Regions from separate parts of the Homo sapiens genome. Here region 2 is reported to be linked to region 1. The links are microRNA targets in miRTarBase. Many come from high-throughput screens and were not tested one by one. Region 1 holds a microRNA gene; the other region holds the end of a gene's coding sequence.
Evidence for each region. Region 1 holds the annotated microRNA hsa-miR-509-3p (UGAUUGGUACGUCUGUGGGUAG, at 1,164-1,185, shown strand). A microRNA usually pairs through its seed, bases 2 to 8, with sites in the 3' UTR of a target mRNA and lowers its output. Matches are read on the target gene's strand: a 7mer-m8 pairs with bases 2 to 8, a 7mer-A1 pairs with bases 2 to 7 and ends in A, and an 8mer does both.

Region 2: miRTarBase lists SDC3 as a target of hsa-miR-509-3p. Seed matches in the 3' UTR shown: 7mer-A1 at 1,813-1,819.

Annotation. Positions count from the first base shown.
Region 1 is chrX:147,256,553-147,259,959 of GRCh38, reverse strand. MIR509-2 (microRNA 509-2) reads left to right here and starts at 1,110; the gene lies at 1,110-1,200. All of the region lies in intron 2 of LOC105373347 (periphilin-1), which reads right to left. MIR509-3 (microRNA 509-3) reads left to right here and starts at 234; the gene lies at 234-308.
Region 2 is chr1:30,870,590-30,873,996 of GRCh38, forward strand. SDC3 (syndecan 3) reads right to left here. Exons shown (of 5, transcript NM_014654.4): 5 at 1-2,788. The coding sequence ends at 2,622. Among named protein-coding and RNA genes, the nearest start is that of SDC3, 36 kb to the right of the region's middle. RefSeq lists an enhancer at 1-818.

The DNA.
Region 1 (3,407 bases):
CTAGCAGAAATGTTTAATATTTCTCAGTTCTGAAAACTGTCATGTGAAAGCTGCAACATGGGAGTGGACAGCACTCAAAGCAGGAAACATAAGGAAAGATAGTGGATTGGATTCTACAGAAGTCCTTTGTCCAAATTCCAATGGTCACTCACAGGTTGTAAATATTGAATGGTTGTTTCAAAGGTGAATGGGTGGGTATTAAGGCAAGGCTGCCATCCTCAGACATGCTGTGTGTGGTACCCTACTGCAGACGTGGCAATCATGTATAATTAAAAATGATTGGTACGTCTGTGGGTAGAGTACTGCATGACACGTGCAACATACATGATGACACTGTGTGTGTGTTGGAGGCATTTAGTTGCATGCAGAGGGATGCTTTCCCTATAGTGCAGGTATTTTACCCTCACAAACCCTCCACTTCCATGCTGGACTACCTCAAAAAACTCTCTTAGGTGCCTAATCAGACACATGGTCTAGGAATTTAAGGTCCTTGCAACAAGCCTCCCATTGAGTTTTTCTGAGATTGATTTCCATTTCTATGATGCTGCCTGATTGAATCAAGGTTTATTGTGCCATTATACAGTTTCTTTACGCCTTAAGAGTATTATTCATTTTGCAGAAACTGTTTCCTGCTCCAACATCCAAATCTATTAATGGTTAGCTTCCTTTCTCATTTTCAAGTCTTCTTAAGCCTTCCAAAATTCTCTCCTGCTTCTTAAACACTTAACTTTTCTGAAAATCAAAATATTTTCTATCTCAGATATACAAAGTCCTCTTTCTTCATGTGCTAATAAAGTACATATTCGTTCTTTTGTAAATACATTTTAATCTATTATAAGGAACAGGATAAGACATGCAAGGATATTTCTTCTGTGAGTAACAGAACCTAACAGAAATGTTTAATATTTCTCAGTTCTGAAAACTGTCATGTGAAAGATGCAACGTGGGAGTGGACAGGACTCAAAGCGGGAAATATAAGGAAAGATAGTGGATTGAATTCTGCAGAAGTCCTTCGTCCAAATTCCAATGGCCACGCACAGCTTGTAAATATTGAATGGTTGTTTTAAAGGTGAATGGGTGGGTATTAAGGCAAGGCTGCCATCCTCAGACATGCTGTGTGTGGTACCCTACTGCAGACAGTGGCAATCATGTATAATTAAAAATGATTGGTACGTCTGTGGGTAGAGTACTGCATGACACGTGCAACATACATGATGACACTGTGTGTGTGTTGGAGGCATTTAGTTGCATGCAGAGGGATGCTTTCCTTACAGTGCAGGTATTTTACCCTCACAAACCCTCCACTTCCATGCTGGACTACCTCAGAAAACTCTCTCAGGTGCCTGACCACCAGACACGTGATCTAGGAATTTAAGGTCCTTGCAACAAGCCTCCCATTGAGTTCTTCTGAGATTGATTTCCATTTCTATGATGTTGCCTGATTGAACCAAGGTTTATCTTGCCATTTTACAGTTTCTTTCTGCCTTAAGAGTATTATTCTTTTTGCAGAAACTATTGCCTACTCCAACATCCAAATCTGTTAACTGTTAGCTTCCTTTCTCATTTTCAAGTCTTCTTAAGCTTTCCAAAATTCCCTCCTGCTTCTTAAACACTTAACCTTCTGAAAATCAAAATATATTCTATCTCAGATATAAAATGTCCTCTTTCTTCATGTGCTAATAAAGTACATATTCGTTCTTTTGTAAATATATTTTAATCTATTATTAGTAAGTCATATATCAGGAATTGTGAATAATGCTGAGAATTTTTTATTGTTTGATTTTTTTGCATTTACTTAAAAACATTTTTTATCTCTAGGTTTTCATTTACTTCCTTTATGTTGTTTCTTTCTCATTCAGTGATGAGAGAGGGTGTATGGAAGCAGAAAATGGGTAAAGGAGAGAGAATGAGAGTCAGAATTAGAGCAAGAATAATCTGTTTTTTTTTTTTTTTTAATCAAGTAGGGTAGAAGTCACAGGTGGACATCTAGGTTTTATTCCAGTTATTCATGGCTAAAAATAAAGCTACTTTGTATATTTGCATACAGATGTATATATGAACACAAGTTTCATTTTCCTTGTGTAAACTGCTACTAGTAGGATTTGAAGGTCACATGGCAAGTGTAAGTTTACATTTAAAATTAATTAAAAAATAATTTCCAGAATGGTTTTACCATTTTGTGCTGCATTAAGCAATGTATTAGTGATCCAATTACCCAACTTCTTATCAGCATTTTGTATTGAAAAGCCTTTGTTTTGTTTTTATTAGCAATTTTAATATGTGTATAGTTCCCTTGTCAGTTGTGGTTTTAATTTGCATCACCTTACTGACGGAAAATGTTGAGCACCTGTACATGTACTTACTTACCATTCATGTATCTTCCTTGGTGAAGTGCCTTTGGGATTTTTCTCACCTTTACCGAGTTGTTCACTTATCTTTGAGGTTTACTATATACATATAGATAGAGATATATAGGTATACTGCATACAATTTCTTGGCCAGAATTATGATTTACATATATTATCTCTCAATCTGTTTTGTTTTTTTCATTTTCAACAGTATTTTGTGCAGAGCAAATGTTTTCAATTTTGATAAAGTACGACTTAACAGTTTTTCAATGTATGCATTATGCTTTTAATGCTGTATCTAACAACTTTTAGACTTAGATGTGAGATTCATGGTTAACTGTGTTTTTCTTTCAGCATTTTGAATATGTTCTACAACTGATTCCAGCTTCCATGGTTTCTCAAAAGAAGTCAGTGTTAAATCTTGTAAGAATCACTTGTATGAAATATGCTCCCTTTCTCTTGCAGCTATAAAGGTATTCTTTCTTTTACACATTCTCTTTCTCTCTCTCTCTCTCCATTAACAGATTGAATACAATGTCTTTAAGTCTGGATATCTTCATGCTTATCTCACTTTTTTGATGTGTACATTTATGTTTTTTATGAAATTTGAAGTTTTTAGCATTATTTCTTTCAACACTATTTTTTTCTGGTTTTCTCTCTCCTGTCCTAATGCTATTTCCATTAGGCATATTTTGGTATGACTCTGGTGTTTCACCTTTCTGAGGCCATGCTCATGCTATGTTACTGAATGGAAAAGTGTAAAAAAAAAAAAAACTTTAAACTATCTTGTTCCAGGAAAATGCTCAGAAAACTCAGGAACAAAAAGAAATATAAGAACATCCCAAGATACCAAGACCATTTTCTGTCTCGTTGATCACTGCTGGTATGTAAAATGAGCTTTTTCGATTACGGAGTCTGGAAAGAAAAATGAGTTTTTACTCCTTCCATTCCACTACCTACTGAACCTACTGATTATTATCTTGTTATTTACTTAGTTGATCTGGTCTTTTTTTTTTTTTTTTTTTCATTTTTTTTGAGATGGAGTCTTGCTCTGTCACC
Region 2 (3,407 bases), not on the chromosome of region 1:
CAGGAGGATAAAGCCTGGACATCTGCCTTGGGTCCAGGGATCCATGAACAAGGCCCCTGGCCTCTTCTCTCAAATGCTAAGGACACAGAGAAGAGAAGCCAGTGCCTGGAGCCCAAGCCCCAAATCAGAAGCCAACCCCTGGGATGTGAGGAGCCAGGCCTGCCGGGGCCACCCCCACCATTGGCTCCAGCCCTACTGAGAAACTGCACCCACTGTTGGGTCTCCCACCTGGGGTCCAGCATCTTCTGGGGCTGGGGGCCCAAGCCCTTTTCTCCTCTATCCTCCCTGGTTTCTCAGCCTCGGCCTGCCCAGGCCGTCTCACCAGAGCTGTGCTCTCCAAGACAGCAGCACCCCAGGGAGCAGGGTAGGGAGGCTGAGCCTTGTGGTCTGTGGCCCCAGGACCCAGCCCTTCTGCTCCAAAGATGACTGAGGCCAACCCGCCCCCTCCAGATATCAGGGGCCCCCCATGCCCACTCTTCTAAGGCTGGGTCCACCTGGCTTCCTCACAAGCCTCTGGGCCCTGTGAAGGAGGGTTTTGGGACTGGAAGATGGAGCCCAGCCTGGAAAAGACAGGCTGTGGGACAGCCCCTGGAACCTCCCCCTCACTGCCTACACACCGCTACCCCTCATCCTGCAGAAATCTGCTGCCAGGGCATCTTGAAAAGGGCCCTGAAATAAAACCTGCCTTCCTGACTTGAATCTGGGATGTGGGTGAGGGGTGGGGGTGTGAGTGCCAGCCAATCGCAACTCACACCACATCCCTTTGGCTCCAAGAGGCCCCCTGCCAAGCACACCCTCCCCAAAAGATCTGTGACCCCACATTTAAAATACCGATGGAAATAGCCCTACTTGCTAGGTAACAAAGGAAGTAACCCCTCCCCCACTATCACCTGGTCTCATCCCTCAAACCCTGACCTCGGGGCCTGAGGGATCTGCAGGGGCTGCTTCCAGCCATGGCCCCTGAAGCTGCAGCCAGAATTGTTTGGCCAAATAGGTGAGGGGGTGTCCACAGGGAGGGCCTCTGGGCAGGTGGGCTGAGGTTGGCCTGCCAGGCAGAGGGCAGAGGGTGCGGAGGGCCCGCCCTCACAGGCACTTTGGAGACTTGTGTCCTGGGAGGCAGAGTCAGCCCCCTAGCTCAAAGCAGGAAGGGGACACAGGGAGATAAAGGAGCCCAACCACATGCCCCCTCCCTGCCCTGGGCCTTCCGTCCTGGGAGACCCAAGACCCCCCAACAACCTGGGGCCAAATTTCCTTCCTCAGCCTTAGAGGAGCCCCCAGGCTCCCAGCTAGTGGGGGTCTGGCCCCAAACCTCCCCCTCTGCCAGCTGCGGTGGGGAGGAAGCAGGTAGGGGTGAAGCCAGGCCCACCTGCATGCAATGCCCTAAAAGGGCTGTGGCCCCACACTTTTTCCGAGAAAGGCAAGGGCCTGCCTGTTTCCCTCCAGCATTGAGAGCAGGTCATGTGGAGTGAGACTGTGCATCCACATGGGATTGTGTCTGACACTGGCTGGGGTTGGCGGCTGCATGGTTGGTGTGGGCACCATGGCATGGGACTGAGTATGACGGGGCAACTTAGGGGGACCCAATATGGGCTGATTGTTCTGGCTCGATTCCACCCTCCCCAGTAAGCCTGAAAGCTGGAGACAATGTGTGTGGTGCCAGAGTGTGGGTGTATTTGGGGTAGGAGGAGGCCACACTGTCACTGTCATGTGACCATGACTAGTGACTTGCATTGCAGTACGTGTCTGGGGGTGTGTAAGTGATGCATGAGGATAAACATTCTTGGAAGGACGCGTGTGTTCTGTGATATGTCTTGATTGGCTGGGCGGTCAGGATTGCGTATGGTTTTGTCATTGCATGCTTTTGTCTTGTGTGTGACTGAGTGAAAATATGGTGATAGTGTGGGCAATGGTGTCTGTGCAGAGTCCCCTCATAGGAGGGACATCAGAGCAGCCCCTCCTCACCAGTGGCTGCCCCAGCACCCTCAGGAAGCTGTTTCTTGGGGGAAGATGCAGAAAGAAATGAAGTCTGGGTACATGTGTACTTGGCAGGCAAGAGGAGAGATTCAACAACCCCAGAGAGACCAGGACAAAACAGGCTGGTGACAAGGGACACCCTCTCACCCAGCTAGAGAGAGGCCCTGGGATACGAGCAAGAGGTTGCAGTGTCTAGATGATTTCAAGGGCTGTGTTTACCAAATGTTTGTCCTGGAAACCAGCCTGAGTGCCTCTCTGCCCCAAAAAGGAGATCTCAGTGAGCACTGTGGGTGCCAAGTCAGGGCTCAGGCTCATCTCAAGCCCCACCCTTTCTTCCACCACCAGCCAATCAGGAGCTTTCTTCCTCCCATCCATCTGACATGAGGTCCTGAAGCCCCAGACTGGTGGCAGGGATGAGGGGAACAAGAGATGAGCTCGTAAGGGCACAGTCTGGGGCAGATGGCAGCAGCCCCTCTTCCTCGGGGAAGATCTGTGTGAGGCTGGCAGCCTGGGCAGACCTTGGGAGAGAGGGCAGAGAAGAACTGGGGCCAGGTTCCAGGCCCAGTCCCAGGCTTGGGCTGGTGGGGCCAGGCTGGGGACTGGACAGCAGGGTGGTGTTGAGGCTGCAGGGAGGCACTGTGGCTCCACTAGGCATAGAACTCCTCCTGCTTGTCAGGCTTCTGGTATGTGACGCTCGCCTGCTTGGGTTCCTCCAGCGTGTAGCTGCCCTCATCCTTTTTCTTCATACGATAGATGAGCAGTGTGACCAAGAAGGCAGCAAAGAGGGCGCCCACCACCCCGCCCACAATCACAGCTGTGGAAGAAGAGGGCACAGGTCAAGGCCCAGAGGCAGGGTAGAACCAGGGCAAAGGGTCCTCAGGGGTGGGGGCCAGGGTGAGGAGAGGGCTGGGAGTCCCAGATCTGAGTTGGAGTGATGATGGAGTCAATACTACTACTACCAGCACTGGGTACCATCATAGGCCTTCACTGGCTGCATTCTAATCGCCCAACACACTAACTCACTGAACCCTCACACCAGCCCTATGAGGGAGGGGTCATCTGAGGGCTTCATCAAATTTAAAATGCCACCACTCATAAGATGCCCCAGTATTTTATAACTGCTAGGAAAGAAAAAGCTCTGCTAACTAAATATGACATACCCCAACTACAGAAGACTTAACATGTGAACAGATGTGCCTCTTAGAATTGATTAAGGGCAAAATGACTATCCCCATTCTACCGATGAAGAGAAGGAAGACTGGAGAGGTGAAGTACCTTGCCTTGAGTGCAAAGCCAGGATTTGAACCAGGAGTCCACAGACTCCCTAGATGCGGCCAGGGCAGGTCCACAGGGACTGGGGTCAAAAACTGGGGAAGGTCAAGCTGAAGGATGGGTCAGAGATTAGCATCTAGGAAGTAAGGTCCCAGGGGGTC